2 separate regions of the Homo sapiens genome follow, and region 2 is linked to region 1. Evidence: fine-mapped expression QTL. A gene starts in region 1. The other region holds a variant in brackets. All regions are shown on one strand. Distances are between the middles of the regions. Region 1 holds the start of TMEM181 (transmembrane protein 181). Region 2 overlaps TMEM181 (transmembrane protein 181).

What was found.
Region 2: its variant is fine-mapped to the expression of TMEM181 in whole blood (TOPMed, PIP above 0.99).

Annotation. Positions count from the first base shown.
Region 1 is chr6:158,556,830-158,562,203 of GRCh38, forward strand. It overlaps TMEM181 (transmembrane protein 181), which reads left to right and starts at 3,262. Exons shown (of 17, transcript NM_001376852.1): 1 at 3,262-3,403. The coding sequence starts at 3,396. RefSeq lists a silencer at 2,953-3,872 and enhancers at 4,292-4,793, 4,794-5,293.
Region 2 is chr6:158,618,176-158,623,549 of GRCh38, forward strand. All of the region lies in intron 10 of TMEM181 (transmembrane protein 181), which reads left to right. Among named protein-coding and RNA genes, the nearest start is that of MIR7161, 11 kb to the left of the region's middle. The variant A/G (reference allele first, on the strand shown) is at 2,665.

The DNA.
Region 1 (5,374 bases):
TTGGCTCACTGTAACCTCTGCCTCCTGGGTTCAAGTGATTCTCTTGCCTCAGCCTCATGACTAGCTGGGATTACAGGCACCTGCCACCACACTCAGGTAATTTTTGTATTTTGTTGGCCAAGCTGGTCTCAAACTCCTGAGCTCAAGTGATCCGTGCTCTTCAGCCTCCCAAAGTGCTGGGATTATAGGCATGAGCCACTGCACCTGGCCTGTTTTTAATACAAGTGACTCCATTTTAATTCTGACAACTTTCACAGTAGCTTATCTCCAAAGGCGGTGCACCTCCTAGGATCCCAGCACTTTGGGAGGCTGAGGCAGGCAGACTGCTTGAGCCCAGGAGTTCAAGACCAGCCTGGACAACATAGTGAAACCTTGTCTCTACAAAAAATACAAAATTAGCTGGTTGTGTTAGTGCACACCTGTAGTCTCAGCTACATGGGAGACTGAGGCCGGAGGATCTTTTGAGTGGGAGGCAGAGGCTGCAGTGAGCCGAGATTGCGCCACTGCATTCTAGCCTGGGTGACAGGGAGACTCTGTCTCAAAAACAAACAGGTCATGTGAGAAATGGCTGATAGATCACACCAGGCTTCTTAGAGCCCAGAATAGTTTGGGTCCCTTTCCCCTTTTCATAACATGATCATAGCACCTTTCATTTCCTTTTCTATCACAGCTGTAATTATTTATTTATTTATTTATTTATTTATTTGAGACAGAGTCTTGCTCTGTTGCTCAGGCTGGAGTGCAGTGGCGTGATCTTGGCTCACTGCAAGCTCCACCCCCTGGGTTTAAGCAATTCTCCTGCTTCAGCCTCCCAAGTACCTGGGATTACAGGCACCCGCCATCACGCCCAGCTAATTTTTGTATTTTTAGTAGAGATGGATTTCGCCATATTGGCCAAGATGGTCTTGAACTCCTGAGCTCAGGTGATCCCCGCCTCACCTTCCCAAAGTGCTGGGATTATAGGCGTGAGCCACCATGCCCATGCCCGGTCAATTAAGTAATTATTTAGGTTATTGTTTGTTCTTGACTAGAAAAGGACAGGGACCTCATCTGTCTATTCGTGTTGTGTTTCCAGAGCTGAGAGTTGTTCCTGGCACACACACACTGCTCCATTAATGTTTGAAGAACAAATAAATGAGAAAACGAGTATGACGGGAGAAGAGGAGCTGAGGGCCATGTGGTTGTTCACATCCTTGAAGGAGTGTTGGGAGAGGGCTCATGCTGACCTGGGTGACGCTGGACAGCAAATCCAGGGAGATCTGACAGGAAGGAATTGCCAGGAGGTAGTTTGGAGTCAAATGCACACAGTGAGGGCCAGGGGTCCTCGGGGTGGTGACAGTTTCCTCTCGCTGGAGATGCCTCAGGAGAGACCAGGCAGCTGGCACAGAGCAGGGATTTCCACATCATCTCATGCTGCTCTGGGCTGGAGGTAGATACTGGCTGCCTCTAGGCAAATGTGGCCAGCAAATGTGCTTTGTTTAGTCCCTCCCAGGGTTTAAGATATTTTTTCGAATTAGTTTCCAACATTTTAGAATCAGAAGTGTCGAAAGACAAAATGACAGCAAATTTAAAGATCCTAAGTAGCTTTTCTTCATGATTCTAGAATCGGGCAGCCCTCAGAACCAACAGGTTCAAAGGACTTTGGGGCTGCAACGTGGTTAGACAACATTTATGGACAGAAAGTGGAACTGAGGCGCAGAGACAGCTTAACTGGTTACAGGTTTATGTTCTAGCTTATTTGAATCAGCTAACCACCTGCCAATGACAGAAGCTCACTGGCTGTGATTGGCTGAGACTCAGCTGTTTGTTACAAAAGCATCCTCCTCAATTAGGGTGTCTTCTCTTTTATGTTAACTATGCCAGGCTGCAGCTCCTTATGTAAGGACTCAAGTAGGGAGGCATCCTCAGGCCTAAACATTTAACAGAAGGTGTTGCATGAAAACGCATGTTTGGGCTGGTTGCGGTGGCTCACGTCTGTAATTTAACAGGCTCCGGGGTTGGGGACCCCTGCTCTAGCTCATAGAACTCCCTCCGACTCACCCCTTCCCGCGCCCCACGTCCCTGTGAACAGTCTGTCCCTGCAGGTACCCAGTTTCTGTTCTCCGGTCTTGTTGCTATGAAGAACCCTTTCCCTCTGCTTATGTATGAAAAGAACTTAAGAAATAATCTTTTGTTATTCCTTGAAGAGTTGCGGTTTAGGATTCAGAGCACTAATGAGATTTTGTGTAACTATTCCTTGGTGTCCTGGCTTAGGGTGTGCTTTGCTTGGTATCTCCCCCTTTTAACCCCCCTCTTCCTAATATCCACCTCACCCTCCAGATTCAGCCCAAACTCTGCATTCTGTCCCCTACCTTCTCCACTCCCCCAAGGCGAGTTAGGCACCCTTCCTCACTGTAGCACCCTGAGCTAAGGCTACCTAACTTACTGTTGGTAATTTTCTTTGCCTGTAATTTCACTGAGGGCAGGAACTGTTCCTTATTCATGTCCACACTTTTCTGCCAATAGTAAGCCTGTTTACAGTTTAGTGAATGAATGAGGATACATTGCAAAGGAAGCTTGGAAGTCCTTTATTTAACTCATGCAGACCGACTTTAAACCCACAGCACACGGGAACACGGGACATTTTGAGTAATGCTCCAAAGAGAATCTCAGAAATAGCCAAACCTTGGTTCTCATCCATTCTTGATTACAGAAATGGGGAACACTGAGCCAAGATGCGAAATCAGGAAAGTGCTTTTGGTCCACTGGTCTAGCTGCAGTCTAGAAGCGGCTTGCGGGAGAAGCTACCAGAAAGAGCCCGGAAGGTTCCTGTCATCATTCGGGGTGGCAGAAGTTTGTCCTGGCTTTTAACCTTTTTTGGGGTCACAAGACCCTTAGGGAATGAATATACAGCTATAGCTCCTCTCCCTAGAAAAATGCAGACACCCATAGTGTTTTCCAGACAACTGCAGGGCATTCGTGGACTCCCGAGGCCCATCCTTACGCCCCGACACTCGGGAAGTAGGAGTGAATGAATGCGCTGTTTACCTGCCCTAGGGACAAGAGGTAAACTAAGTCATTCATTCACTCATTCCTTCTGTCTTGAGCCCCAGCTCAGGGCTAGCCTGGGTGCTCCCGGCCGTGGGGCTCCGCCCCGGCACGGGGCCACGAAGGAGGGCCACCCCCCTCGCCGCGCGCCCGCGGCCCCGCTTCCACCGCGCCGCGCCCTCTTCCGCCGTGAGAGTCGCTTCCGCGCACGTGATCTCGGCGTCGCGCTCTGATGAGTTTTCCGCGGCCGGCCGCTGCTCAGCCGCTGTCGCTCCGGCTCCGGCTGCGGCTGCCGCTGCCGAGGCTGCTGCGCGGCGCCTGGCGGGCTCGGGACGCGCGGGCCGGGGCCGAGGGCTCTGGGCGCCGAGATGGAGCCGTGAGTCCCCGGCCGAGCGGGCGGGCTGGCTGGCTCTCCGGACACTCCGGCCGAAAGTTGGGGATCCCTGGCTCCCGGCGCCGTGCCGCAGGGTCCCTGGCGCCCACGTGGAACTGGGGGCAGGGAAAAGGGCGCTGAAGGGGGCTTCGCGGGCGGGTCAGGCGGAGGTGTTTGCGCGGGGCGAGAGTAGACCGGGGCCGGGGCTCCCTCCTGCCTGCCCGCCCGGCCGCGGTTAGAGACCGGGATGCGGTCGGGGTTCCGGGACGGGGCTGCGAGCCACAGCGCTCACCGGGGGGCCGAGAGAACCGGGGGCGCTGCGGCCCTTCCCCGGCGTAGGGTGGCCGCCCGCACGGAGTCCCGCCGCCTCCCGGGCAGCCTCTCCTGCCGGAAAGGCCCCGCCCCGTCGTCCCCTCGGTATCGAGAGCGCCCCGCGCTGCCCTGCGGTCTCGCCCAGCGCCGGGTGCGAGGCTCTCAGAGGCGATTGGTGACGTGGGCACCGGGGAGCCTGCCGCAACAGCCCCTTTGGACTCGGGGTGTCGAGTTATATGAGTTTTATGCGTTTTACGATCTGCTGACTTTGGGCTTTTTTTTTTTTCTTTACCTCTTTGAAGTCCAGGGTTTTTAATGAGGAAAAACCTGTTTGGGGTCTCGTGGACGCCATCCCTAAAGCTTGCTTTTGACCCAGCAGTCGCCTAGGTGTCCCCCTGGGCGCATCTGGAAAAGAAGGAGACGGAGTTAACCAGAGGGTTAGCGCCGCGTGGAGTTGCAGAAAGTCCGGGAGAAGGAGTGGCCCATATGTGCAGCCGCGCCTGGCGCAGGAGGCTTCCAGGGCCGGCTCCCTGCACTGAAGGCAGCCTCCGAGGGGCCTGGGCGCGCTTCTTGGCTTATATGCGGTTTTTGAGGCAGAAGGGTTTTGCTTTGGATCTTTGCTGATTTCTCTGGCTGTGGACGTGGTCAGAGAAGTGACACCCAGGCCTGTTGCCTCAGCGCAAGTGCCTGTGACAGAGAGATCTGTTTTTCCTTCTGCTTCCTTAGAAGTTTCTGACTTTGGTATGTTGCTTTAGCACCTCTTGGGAAACTGGAATGGCATCAAATATCAGACCTATGTGGATGTTTTAAAGATTTTAAAAGCCAAGTGGAGGTAGGTTAGCAGTATTGCCTCTGCACAACTCCAGAGGGCAAGATTCTTGTGCGGCCTATGTAAATAATACTGCTTGGAACGGTGTCTTGTGGAACTGTGGCCTTGTAGCAGAGTGACAGCTGCGTGTTACAGGAGTTCTCTCACGCGCTGCCCCTTGGAGCTGCATAGGTGGGCTGGGTGTGCTTTTTCAGTAGGAGAGAGGCCGGGGACGTGAGGTGGTGAGGGCCTTGGCCAGGACAGGGATCTGGGTCTTCTGCCAGGGTCCTGCGCTGTTACAGGACAGGGAACTAGACCAAAGAAAGCAGTTGACCAAGGAAAGGTCCCGAGGAGGACAAGCAAAACGCAGCTTGAATTTTGTGCGAGTTTGAGGCCTCCCCCTGCAGCTGTAAGCGCTTTGTGCCTCAGGCTCTGTGGAGCACTAAGAGGGTTAGGGAAGACGGAGGGGGATGAGGGTATCTGGAAATCAGCCCACCACCATCGGCCAGCATTCCAGGCACCTACCTGGAAACTGAGAAGAGTTTGGTAGCAGATAAAATCCTCCTAAAAAACAAGCCTGAAAATCCGAAGTGCGTCCTGGACTTAGGTGACTGAGTGTTCTCTGTCCTTGTCTGGTGTGCCTGAGAGCCCAGAGGTGAGAAAGGTGAGAAAGAAGAGAAGTCCAGGGAAAGAATGGGAGAGAACAGAGCCGCTTGGAGGAGCAGGGGCAGCTCCACCACTCTGCTTACGGTGTGTAGGGGACCGTCCCCCTGCAGACCCTGGCCTTATGACCTCTGACTCTCATTCGGCCCAGCCTGCTCTTTAAAAATGTAGGAGAGATTGCCATCAAAACT
Region 2 (5,374 bases), 61 kb after region 1:
TATATATTTAGGATAGTTAGCTCTTCTTGTTGCATTGATCCCTTTACCATTATGTAATGGCCTTCTTTGTCTCTTTTGATCTTTGTTGGTTTAAAGTTTGTTTTATCAGAGACTAGGATTGCAACCCCTGCTTTTGTTGTTGTTGTTGTTGTTGTTTTCCATTTGCTTGGTAGATATTCATCCATCCCTTTATTTTGAGCCTATGTGTGTCTCTGCACGTGAGATGGGTCTCCTGAATACATCATACTGATGGGTCTTGACTCTTTATCCAATTTGCCAGTCTGTGTCTTTTAATTGGGGCATTTAGCCCATTTACGTTTAAGGTTAATATTGTTATGTGTGAATTTGATCCTGCCATTATGATATTAGCTGGTTATTTTGCTTGTTAGTTGATGCTGTTTCTTCCTAGCATTGATGGTCTTTACAGTTTGGCATGTTTTTGCAGTGGCTGGTACCGTTGTTCCTTTCCATGTTTAGTGCTTCCTTCAGGAGCTCTTGTAAGGCAGGCCTGGTGGTGACAAAAATCTCTCAGCATTTGCTGTCTGTAAAGGATTTTATTTCTCCTTCACTTATGAAGCTTAGTTTGGCTTGATACGAAACTCTGGGTTGAAAAGTGTTTTCTTTAAGAATGTTGAATATTGGCCCCCACTCTTCTGGCTTGTAGAGTTTCTGCTGAGAGATCAGCTATTATTCTGATGGGCTTCCCTTTGTGAGTAACCTGACCTTTCTCTCTGGCTGCCCTTAACATTTTTTCGTTCATTTCAACCTTGGTGAATCTGACAATTATGTGTCTTGGGGTTGCTCTTCTCAAGGAGTATCTTTGTGGCGTTCTCTGTATTTCCTGAATTTGAATGCTGGCCTGCCTTGCTAGGTTGGGGAAGTTCTCCTGGGGGATAATATCCTGAAGAGTGTTTTCCAACTTGGTTCCATTCTCTCTGTCACTTTCAGATACAACAATCAAACATAGATTTGGTCTTTTCACATAGTCCCATATTTCTTGGAGGCTTTGTTCGTTTCTTTTTACTCTTTTTTCTCTGAACTTCTCTTCTTGCTTCATTTCATTCATTTGATCTTCAGTTACTGATACCCTTTCTTCCACTTGATCGAATCGGCTACTGAAGCTTGTGCATGCGTCACGTAGTTCTTATGCCATGGTTTTCAGCTCCATCAGGTCGTTTAAGGTCTTCTCTGTGCTGTTTATTCTAGTTAGCCATTTGTCTAATCTTTTTTCAAGGTTTTTAGCTTCTTGGCGATGGGTTCGAACATCCTCCTTTAGCTCGGAGAAGTTGGTTATTACCGATCTTCTGAAGCCTACTTCTGTCAACTCGTCAAAGTCATTCAGAGGAAGGAGTTTTGGAGGAAGGAGAGACCTAGGGAGGGTTTTTTGTTTTGTTTTTGTAAGAGAAGGATGTTGGCCAGGCGCGGTGGCTCACGCCTATAATCCCAGCACTTTGGGAGGCCAGTGCAGGCCGATCATGAGGTTAGGAGATTGAGACCATCCTGGCCAACATGGTGAAATGCCGTCTGTACTAAAATACAAAAAATTAGCCAGGCGTGATGGTACACACCTGTAGTCCCAGCTACTTGGGAGGCTGAGGCAGGAGAATTACTTGCACCTGGGAGGCAGAGGTTGCAGTGAGCTGAGATTGCGCCACTGCACTCCAGCCTGGCGACACAGCGAGACTCCGTCTCAAAAAAAAAAAAAAAAAAAAAAGGAGGATGTCATGAGGGGTGCAAGGTTGACATAGAGAGGGTAGAGGAAAGCCTGAGTATAGGGAACCTCTTGCCATTTGCCATTCCTGGTGATAAAATTGTCAAGGTCCCTGAGAATCTGAAAGTTAAAGGGTGCTGTTCTCAGGCAATTGGCTGTTATTATCTTGTTTGTATTGGGACCAGGCCATATTGCAATAAAAAACTAAACACTTTGGCTTTAGGAGTCCCTGTGAGCCAAGTTTGGCGAGGTTGTGAAGGAGACAGCCCAGAGGGGAGGCGTGGGAATGTGGGATGGTTTGGCACCATGTGGGCTGGTGAGAGGAGGCCCGGGGGGGTCTATTTTTATTAGGCATCCCCAGACAAGAGACCTGGAATCTTCTTTCCAAAGAGGACAGTTAAGCTGAGAAGAAACTGGGCGCCCCCAAGATGTCCTCTAGCTTAGTCCCACTGGTCCTCTGAGGACTGGGACGGCAGACCGAACTTTCTCAGGTACCACGAGAAAGCCAGGAGAAGGCAGATCTTACCAGTCAGCTGAATTAGTGTCTGATGTTGGATGTTCCAGTTGGAATCACCAAAGGGCTTCCCGAACCGGCATGCGTGAGGAAGAGAGAGGGAGAGGGAGAGAGAAAGAAGAGGGAGAAAGAGGGAGCAAGGGTTAGGGAGCGAAATACCCATCGCTGGTGGTTGGAGGTGGATTCCTGAGACCTGAGGGTTTTGAGAGCCCACTGGGGAGTAGCCCCCGCCCGAGCCTCGCAGTCCCCTTCAGATTAGTTGTCCTCGCACAAATTGCTGGAAGAGTGAAGTGAGAGAAAAGATGGGGTGCATGGCCAGAGACTCTCAGGATCCAGGAGTTAACTCAGGACAAGCTGCCGCTGCCCACTGCTTCCTGGGTTGCAAGAGAGCCTCTGTCCCCAACATCTGTCCCGGGTTTCAGCACCAAATGTAAGTGTT[A/G]AAGAGGAAAGAAACACGAAAAGCAGCTCAACAGTGAAAAATAGGTTTATTTTGGACAATAAACCTGAGAGGGCCTTCTGGCCAAGTTAGGTCAGAGGCACTCTCTTACGGGCTAAGAGTATTTAAGCGTTCAGGGTGGGAGAGCTTATCACAGGCTCGAAATGTTTCTGTGTGTCTCTTTGTCTTGCTTATCTGGAAGGGAGAGTTTTGTGTCTGTTCCCCATACATCTTCCTGCAACTGCAGGCATAGCCCCCACGTCTGCTTTTAGCTTTCCTATCTTGGTGCACCTAAAGGGAAACGAATGTGCTTATTAGGACCCACTGTTCTACTGGGGCACATGGTATGAGTGTGAAGTTTGGTGCTTACCCAAGAGACTTTCCCCTCTCTGTCTGTGCCCAGCTGTGTTATCTGTGTTTTACTATCTGCTCTTTCTGGCTGCTGCTTGTTAGAATCTCGAGAAGTGATTTCCTTGAAATGCAGGAGGTTAGAAAGGGAGCTGGCACTGAAAGTGGCAGTGTTTGTCCAAGATGAAGGTGCTCCTGCTCTGTCAAGGAGGAGGAGTTACTTCTGCGGCAGGATGAGCCCCAGGATAACCTCGGCGAAGCAAGCCACACCATCCTCTTCCTGGGTTTTCAGGCGCTTGGGGCTACCAGCCCGTCCTGAACCCAACACAGAGCTCTGAGCTGGCCAGCTGAGGGGGCCACATCACCGGACTCCCGGAGGCAGCTGCGCTTGCTGGGACACCTTCCCACATTCTGCTCTGGTGGTACCTGACCTTGTGCCAATCCAGCACCATGGACCCCCTTCCCTCTTCCTCCCACTGCCCATCACAGTTCTCACAGTTTCAGAGATGCCAGCGTGCTTTGGAGAAGTCAGAATGATCCGATATTTACTAAAGGCTTTGGTTTGGCTTCCAAGCTCAGTGTGCTTCTGAGATCACCAAGCGCTTCTGTCTGCGCAGGCCACTTCACAGATGCCTAACTGCTTCAGGGGCTACAGAGCACTTTGATTACTTTGCAATACAAAGTCCAGAGCTGTCAAAGCGCTTCCGAAGACCACAAAGGGCTTTAAGGTCCACACATGGCTGCTGGACCCATGGGCTCCCGCAGCTCGCCCACCTGCCCTGGGCTGGAAGGGGCCCAAGCGCCCCTCAGAGCCAGCCGCACCCCTGAAGGCTGCCTCCGGACAGCCCACCTGGCTGCCGAGGCCCAGACACCCGCCCTGCCTGCCCCGTTGGGCCGCCCACACTGTTCTGCCCTGCCTGACCTCTGCCCAAGATGACACCACTCTGACCTCCCCAGCGCCTGCCCTCTGGTATGTTTTTCTCTATACATACATACCTATGATAAAGATTATTTGTTAGGCTAATAATAACCAATAAAATAGAAAAACTATAACAATATATTATAATAAAAGTTGTGTGACGTGCTCTCTCTTTTTCAAAATATCCTGTATTCTTATGATGATGATGTGAGATGCCCCAGTCCCTGTGTGTGGGATAAGTGAGGGGAATGGTGTAGGCATTGTGACATAGGGCTAGGCTGCTCCTGAGCTTCCTGTGATATGTCGGGAGGGTCACGCAGCCATGACAGTGTCGGTGGTTGTGTGTCAGGAGCAGATGATGTGGCCGACTGACGGGCGAGCCACGTTTGCAGCCGGGGTACACAGGACAAAGGGGTGGCACACATCCCTGGGGGGATGGTGCAGGATGTCATCGTGCTATCAGATTGGCATGCAATTTAAAACTTAGGGAATGCTTTTTTCTGGAATGTCCCATTTAACGTTTTCTGACTGCAGCTGATTTCAGTTAACTGAAACTGCAGAAAGTGAAACCATGGGTAAGTAGGGACAGCTGTATGACTTGAACTGACACATTCGTTTTTGCTTAAATGAGTTGTGGAGAATCCACAATTCTACTGGTCTATGATGAAAGATGAAAAAGACCATGTCCTTTTCAATTTCTCCTTTAGAGAGGGGAGACCTTGTTGTAGGAGTGAATCTTGGGTGGCTCCTGGCTTTCCACTGTCCACCGATGCTCTGCTGTGTCCACACACTTTCAAGCCCTATGCCCGCTCCCACGCTTGCTCTTTATGAGTGCTTTTGTCCTGTAAAATGGCCCCACAGCAGAAGCCTAGTGTGGTAGCAGCCTGGTTCACATGAATAGGACTTTCACGGAGTAGCTCCGTTTCCAGGTGTGACTTCGGAGCCCAGCATGCCTAGTTTCATGCCACAGTGACCCAAGTGAGTCACCCCGTCTGCTCCAGTCCCCTGTCCCCAATTCCCTGTCATCTCAGCCACCCATTTTCATTTTGAAAATCAATCTCATGGAAGTTTCTATTTGCTTTTATTGCTTTCTTTGTTTTCTTGTCTATTTCCTAGTACTCATACGTGCCATTAAAAAGGTGACTGGAAAAACAGCTCTTAAAACTGCAAGAGAAATAGTATATAGGGTTTTGTGTAATAAAAAATACTGCAACTTTCCAATACTGATAAATGTGGACCCTTGGTAGGATTGTATAGTTTTTTCATGTGAAATATGAAATTCAGGATTTCTCATAAATTTAGGATTGCTTTGTAAAAATCCTTCACTGTTGGTAGGAAGTAGTTTATATTAATAAGTAAAAAAAACAAAAAGTCAATAAGAAAAAATGTAAAATAAAAAGTAAAGGTAGTTATTAATCTATAATTATTTATAATGTCAATTTTTAG